Homo sapiens: one gene and its partner. The protein of the gene in region 1 purifies or fractionates together with the protein of each later gene. This does not show direct contact. Each region holds a gene or a part of one and is shown in the gene's direction. Other genes may lie near its edges.

Region 1 (4,066 bases):
ATGCAGTGGTGTGATCATAGTTCACTGCAGCCTTGACCTCCTGGGCTCAAGCAGTCCTCCTACCTCAGTCTCCTGAGTAGCTGGGACCACAGGTGCTTACCACCATGTCTAGCTTATTTGTTTGTATGTATGTATGTATTTATGTACATATGATGGAGTCTCACTCTGTCACCCAGGCTGGAGTACGGTGTCATGATCTTGGCTCACTGCAACCTCTGCCTCCTGGGTTTAAGTGATTCTCATGCCTCAGCCTTCTGAGTAGCTGGGACCACAGGTGTGCACCACCATGCCTAGCTAATTTGTATGTATGTATGTATTTATGTACATATGATGGAGTCTCACTCTGTCACCCAGGCTGGAGTGCGGTGGCATGATCTTGGCTTACTACAATAGCCCCCTCCCGGGTTTAAGCAATTCTCATGCCTCAGCCTTCTGAGTAGCTGGGACCACAGGTGTGCATCACCATGCCTAGCTAATTTGTATGTTTGTATGTATGTATGTATTTACGCTCATATGACGGAGTCTCACTCTGTCACCCAGGTTGGAGTCTCACTCTTGTCAACATGATCTTGGCTCACTGCAACCTCCGTTTCCTGGGTTTAAGCTATTCTCATGTCTCAGCCTCCTGAGTAGCTGGGATCACAGGTGTGCGCCACCACGCCCAGCTAATTTTTTTGTATTTTTAGTAGAGACAGGGTTTCACTGTGTTGGCCAGGCTGGTCTTGAACTCCTGGCCTAAAGTGATCCACCCGCCTCAGCCTCCCAAAGTGTTGGGATTACAGACATGAGCCATTGTGCCCAGACATATTCTTTTTTAGAGACAGGCTCTTGCTCTGTTGCCCAGGCTGATCTTGAACACCTGGACCCAAGTGGTCCTCCCGCTTCAGCTTCCTAAAGTGCTGGGATTACAGGGGTGACACCGCTCTCGGCCAAAAAATTAACTTTTTGTTAATCAGCCATCTTTTGCTTTTCTTCTCTTTTACCTAATATCCCTTGAAGTTTTAAACATTGTATGTTCTATATTTGATTCACTCTGTAGTTATAATTTTGTAGTTGATCTCTTCTTTACTATTTATATAAGCTCATACCTTTCCTAGTTACTCACTGCAGTAATTAACTTGCCTTATCCCTGAGAGGTCTGAAAAAAAAAACAATGACTAGCTTAAAGTTTATTGAACGCCTTGGAAAAGTGTGGTATAAAACAATAATATTTATTTCATTCTTGAGTTTGAATAATCCCTTACCTATTTCCTCTGTCTCCACCCTGCATGTTAGACTAGTGTTCCCTTTCTGTCTTCATCTTTTGTACATATGTTCATTGTGTCATTTATTATATATAATTTTAAATGTTTACACGTTTCTCCCCACTGGAATAAAAGCTCACTGATGGAAGAACCTACATCTTTTTATCCTTGAATTTCTAGCTAGACTATTGCCTTGCTTATGCCTGTAACAGGCCTTTAATTTATTGATTGGAAGCTTTAGTTTGGAGCATGTAGTGTGCAACAAAGTATTTCAATCTTTTTTTTTTTTAAAAACAAGTAATTCTTAATTCTTTTAGAAGCTGGATAAGAAATCATCTCCATCCACAGGAAGCCTAGATTCTGGAAATGAGTCCAAAGAGAAATTATTGAAAGGAGAAAGTGCGCTTCAGCGGGTCCAGTGTATCCCTGGCAATGCCAGCTGTTGTGACTGTGGCCTGGCAGATCCACGGTGGGCCAGCATCAACCTGGGCATCACCTTGTGTATCGAGTGCTCCGGAATTCACCGGTGGGTAGGCCTGCCCAGGATGAGAATTTCTTCTTTTGGATAAACACAGATAGAAATGGTTGTTTCACTTGTTAGTTGCCCTTTTCCACTTCCCTAATTTAATCACCAGTTTGTATCTTTGTACCTTTTAAGAAGTAGTTAAAATCCTGGTTTGTAAAAGCTGTTGAGGACTTTGGTTCATCATTCATTATTAAACAGAAGATCTGTGCCTATATGTGTATGCCGAGGGCTTTATTAGAGCCTGTGTCACGTTAAAACAGAACTTGCGCAAATACGCAAACAGAGACTTGATAGTAATGCAGTCTTCTTTTTTCCACTTAGGAGCCTTGGGGTTCATTTTTCAAAAGTACGATCTTTAACTTTAGACACCTGGGAGCCAGAACTTTTAAAGGTAAAAAAAATTTTTGCTTTAAAATATTTCATATTTTCACATGAAAGTGAAGATTTTAGAATCTTGGTTTACAAATGTGTGAGTTCTTCATGCTACCAATGTATGCTAGCTAAATTGTATTGAAACACATCTGAGGCTATTTTGGCAAATCTGGTGTTTTCATTGTAAGTTTTAAAAATGGCTACATTTGGCTGGGTGCGGTGGCTCACGCCTGTAATCCCAGCACTTTAGGAAGCCGAGGCGGGCGGATCATGAGGTCAGGAGATCGAGACCATCCTGGCTAACACGGTGAAACCCCGTCTCTACTAAAAAATACAAAAAATTAGCCAGGCGTGGTGGCGGGTGCCTGTAGTCCTAGCTACTCAGGAGGCTGAGGCAGGAGAATGGCGTGAACCCGGGAGGCAGAGCTTGCAGTGAGCCGAGATCGCGCCACTGCACTCCAGCCTGGGTAACAGAGAGACTCCGTCTCAAAAAAGAAAAAGAAAAAAAGAAAAAAAAAAGGCTATATTTATATATAGCACTCTTAACTCCAGGTTAGTTCACTGTTCTTGTTTTCCTTGAGACAAGGTCTTCGCTCCCTTGTGCAGGCTGTGTAGTGGCACCATCACAGCTTACTGCAGCCGGGACTTCCTTGGCTCAAAGAATCCTCGTGCTGCAGACCCCCCAAGCAATTGACACCACAGATGCATGCCACCATGCCTGGCTAATTTTTGTATTTTTCGTAGAGACATGGTTTCACCATGTTGCCCAGACTGGCCTTGTACTCCTGGGCTCAAGCAGTCCATCTACCTCGGCCTCCCAAAGTGCTGGGACTACAGGTGTGAGCCACTACCCTTGGCCCAGTTCAGATTCTATGCCTTAATTTTAATCTTTTCTGATTAGATTCTTTTTAAATATATAAGAGGTCTATTGCTATACTAAACTTCATAATGGATTAGAAAAGCTTTTGACACCATTGGGTTGTTTCAGCATACGATGATTTGCAAATTTATATTTGTCAGGTTAGGAGTCATCATACCAAGTCTTCCTTTTTTCCCTGTGTCTAAGAATTTATATCTATGAAAATGTCATAAATAATTTTAGACCACTACCGGTTTCTGATAAGATTTACAAAATTCGAAATAGTAGTATAATCCTTTTAATTCCTGCCATCTAGTTTACCATATTGTAGAAAATAGATGAGTTTAAGGGTTGGAGTATATGCTCATTTGTTTCTGTCTGAAATCCTGTGGCCGGGTGCGGTGGCTCATGCCTGTAATCCCAGCACTTTGGGAGGCCAAGGTGGGCAGATCACTTGAGGTCAGGAGTTTGAAACCAGCCTCGCCAACATGGTGAAACTGTCTCTATTAAAAATACAAAAATTAGCCAGGCGTGGTGGCACACACCTGTAGTCCCAGCTACTCGAGAGGCTGAGGCAGGAGAATTGCTTGAATCCAGGAGGCAGAGGTTGCAGTGAGCCGAGATCGCACCACTGCACTCCGGCCTGGGCAACAGAGGAAGACTGTGTCTCAAAAAAAAAAAAAAAAAAAAGAAAAAAAAAGAAAAAAGAAAGACGGAAAGTAGATACTAATTCCCATTCTTTTTAAAATAGAATGTTTTTAATTTTTTTTGAAATTCACTCATTTTTATAAGAATATTTTTCAAATTTTAATCGTAGTATATTGTGAATTTATTTAGTGTAGAGTAGAAAATGTGTGCCTAACTCTTGATATTTTTTCCAAATTCTCTCTTTTTTTTGAGAGGGAGTCTCGCTGTGTCGCCCAAGCTGGAGTGCAGTGGCGCGATCTTGACTCACTGCAAGCTCCACCTCCTGGGTTCACACCATTCTCCTCCCTCAGCCTCCTGAGTATCTGAGACTACAGGTGCCCACCACCACACCCAGCTAATTTTTTGTATTTTTAGTAG
Region 2 (3,783 bases), on another chromosome or scaffold:
TGGGCTGGAGAGCACCTTGAGCTCCCTTGGTTGCTGTTGGCTACTGCGCTGTCTCTTCTCCCAAACATACTCTTGCTTCAGTACAGCAAAGAAGTTAGGAGAGTACCACATTTGCTCCTTGTTACCATAACCCAACTCTTGATAGAGAACTTCTGTGAGGCTCAGGATGTTTCCACTGGATCATACCACAGTTCTCTGAGATAGTAGGTAAGCAGGATTCATCCCCACTTTACAGGTAAGAAACTGGAAACCCAGAAAGGTCAGATAGCTCTCCCAAGGTCTCACAGGAGTAGAACTAGGTCTTTTGGCCCTTAGACCTTAGATGCCTCTTCTTAGATGTGGTGGCTCACAATATCCCTATTGTGATAATATCTTACTGACTTTCATACAATTCTTTTTATTTGAGAAACATCTTTTGTCATAACCTCCCTTAATGATCACAATGGGAAAAACTTTGTGTTGCTATTTGGGGCTGAGCTTTCTTGTCATCACAAAGTAGAAATGAGACAAAATTCTTCACTCTGAATTCCAAGAGCTCTTGATGAAATTCGAAGGTTGGGGGCAAGGGCTGGATGACTTGGGATTTGGTGAGGATGGGGAAGTGGAAGGGATCTCCTGTGGTATTACTCCTTGTCTGTTCTTCTAGACGGCTTAGGAAGAAGCAATGTTGGGTGTGATCTGAGTGCCTGGACTTGGGCCGGCTTCCTGGGATGGAGGAGAGCTCTTGATTTCTTAAAGCTAAGTTACTGTTTGGCAACAGATAATTTACAGGGTAAAGAAAGGTTGATTTTCATGTTATGTAACCCTGTAGCCATTGCTCAGTTTTAGCAGTCTTGGTTCATCTGTAAACTCACCACTCACTACCCCCAGATGATTTTTGAAGTGGGTTCCTGACATTATATCATTTCTTCCATAAATGCTTCAGTATATATTTCCAAAAGATACCGATTCTTTTAAAGACATTAATGATTTTTTTAAAAACGCTAGGGAACAGTTCAGATTAACTGGATAACAGCAATAAAGGTCATAAGTTTTTGTACTTTCTACCTTGAGATTTCAAAATATTGAGCACATGAGAGACTCTTAGTCCAGTCACATTACTGTCCTTGATGATAACAACTAGATTATCTTAATTTTTTTTTTTTTTTGAGATGGAGTCTCGCCTGCTCTGTCGCCCAGGCTGGAGTGCAATGGTGTGATCTCGGCTCACTGCAACCTCTGCCTCCCGGGTTCAAGCGATTCTCCTGCTTCAGCCTCCCGAGTAGCTGGGATTACCGGTGCCCGTCACCACACCTGGCTATTTTTTGTATTTTTAGTAGAGACGGTTTTGCCATGTTGGCCAGGCTGGTCTTGAACTCTTGACCTCAGGTGATCCACCCGCCTCGGCCTCCCAAAGTGCTGGGATTACAGGCATGAGCCACTGTGCCCGGCCAAGTATCTTAATTTTTATCAAATTTTCAGAGGTAGCATATTGAGTATCTTCTATGTAATCTGTTTATGAAGGTAGCATTTTAAATTATTTAAATGGATTATCTGAATTTTTAATAGAAGCAGCTCCTGTTTATAATACAGATGGCTTTTGTGTCCCTGTTTCTTTAGCAATGTCATGGTGTGTTTGGATCTAATTACGTCATCTGGTGATAGATCAGGTGTAGTGTAATATAACACAGTGTTGTGTTAGCAGAAATCAGCACATGAAAGGAGCAAGTGGAGCTTTCTGGTTATATTTTTTTGAAACAGGAATTTATAGTCAGATGTGTCCAGGAATTAGGTATGAAGTTGGAATAGGTGATTTTTAAGGCTTCAACCATCTCTGGAGATTGACATGACCCCTTCATACTGAGAGGACTGATGCTTTTGTATTTACTGCCACCTATCATGAAGCAGAGATTGTAAAATAAATTCTAAGAGTGTTGTGAGAAAGGATTACTTTAATTTTGTTTTGTTTTTAAAGATTATAACTGTAATTTACATGTTATTTTTACAGTCACTTAAGCAGTTGCGTTTTAATAGCCACTGATTCTTTTCAGAGAATGTCCTTCAGTAACCTTGGTAGGCATTGTCTGTCTTCAGTACTTGCAGAAATAGGCTGCCGAAGGAAGTGTCGATGCTCAGATCTCCCTACGTTTTTTTATTCCTGCACCGCTAATGGTGGCAGTAGGAAGTTCCTAGGGACATTTGACTGCACCTTTTTGTTCGTTTGTTTTGAGACAGGATCTCACTCTGTCACCCAGTCTGAAGTGCAGTGGCAAGATCTCAGCTCACTGCAACCTCCACCTCCTGGGCTCAAGCAGTCCTCTCATCTTAGCCTCCTGAGTAGCTGGGACTATAGGCAGGCATGACCATGCTCCGCTAATTTAAAAAAATTGGCTGGGTGCAGTGGCTCACGCCTGTAATCCCAGCATTTTGGGAGGCTGAGGCGGGCAGATCATGAGGTCAGGAGACGGTGAAACCCCGTCTCTACTAAAAATACAAACATTTTTAAAAATTATTTTTGTAGAGATGAAGTATAGTATAGTGATACTGCCCAGGCATATTATTGAACTCCCAGGCTCAAGCGACCGTCCTCGGGCCTCAGCCTCTCAAAGTTCTGGGATTGCAGGCATGAGCCGTAGCGCCCAGCCTGGCATCGCCTTTTATTTGCCCTGTATCATTTCCAGTCTCTTAGCCTTGAATTTGAGTGAAAGTGTGTGTGAATGAGAGTGAGCATGTGTGTGTGTGAGCAGTTACATATGTGAGCTGGTGTGTGTGTGTGTAATATGTGTGTGCGGTGAGATGTGTGGGAGCATGTGTCTGCAGGATCAGGGATGTGTGTATGTGGGAGTGGGATATTTGTGTGTAAGTGGCATATTATGTATGTGTGTGAGCAGGTGAGTGTATGTATTCTGGGTCTACATGCTGACTGAATTGCTGAAAGGCAAATGAAGCTTGGGTTGTATAAAACAGAAAATGACCAATAATCCCACTATCCTGAGAAAAATAACATTCCCATTATTTTACTACATTTCTTTTCAGACTTTTTTTTTTTTTTTGAAATAGAGTCTTGCTCTCTTGCCCATGCTGGAGTGCAGTGGCACAATCTCAGTTCACTGCAACCTCCACCACGTGGGTTCAAGCGATTGTCTTGCCTGAGTCTCCTGAGTAGCTTGGACTACAGGCGTGCAACGCCTGGCTAATTTTTATATTTTTAGTAGAGACGGGGTTTCGCCGTGTTGACTAGGCTGGTCTCGAACACCAGACCTCAAGTGATCCACCTGCCTCAGCCTCCCAAAGTGTTGGGATTACAGATGTGAGCCACCGCACCTGGCCCAGACCTTTTTTAACACAGACATAGACACACAGGTGACTGTCTATAAAAGTACACAATTGAGATCATATTGGGGTAGAAGCTAAATTTTTTTTTTTTTTTGAGATGGAGTCTCGCTCTGTCACCCAGGCTGGAGTGCAGTGGCGTGATCTTGGCTCGCTGCAAGCTCCGCCTCCCGGGTTTATGCCATTCTCCTGCCTCAGCCTCCTGAGTAGCTGGGACTACAGGCGCCCGCCACCCCTCCCGGCTAATTTTTTTGTATTTTTATTAGAGATGAGGTTTCACCGTGTTAGCCAGTATGGTCTTGATCTCCTGACCGCATGATCCGCCCACCTCGGCCTCCCAAAGTGCTGGGATGATAGGCATGAGCTATGGCGCCCAGTGAAGCTAAATTATTTTTATAGATGTTCATTGTTTTAAAAGAAACTGGCCTGGCGCGGTAACTCACACCTGTCATCCCAACACTTTGGGAGGCC

Evidence for each region.
Region 2: the proteins of ACAP2 (region 1) and RAB11FIP3 purify together in Homo sapiens (affinity purification with western blotting, with the first as the bait; one study listed by BioGRID). This does not show direct contact.

The regions. Positions count from the first base shown.
Region 1 is NC_000003.12:195,299,670-195,303,735, reverse strand, and holds part of ACAP2 (arf-GAP with coiled-coil, ANK repeat and PH domain-containing protein 2), read left to right. Parts: intron 1-1,561; coding exon 1,562-1,770; intron 1,771-2,091; coding exon 2,092-2,161; intron 2,162-4,066. UniProt on the Homo sapiens protein: GTPase-activating protein (GAP) for ADP ribosylation factor 6 (ARF6). Doesn't show GAP activity for RAB35.
Region 2 is NC_000016.10:428,366-432,148, forward strand, and holds part of RAB11FIP3 (rab11 family-interacting protein 3), read left to right. Parts: intron 1-3,783. UniProt on the Homo sapiens protein: Downstream effector molecule for Rab11 GTPase which is involved in endocytic trafficking, cytokinesis and intracellular ciliogenesis by participating in membrane delivery. Recruited by Rab11 to endosomes where it links Rab11 to dynein motor complex.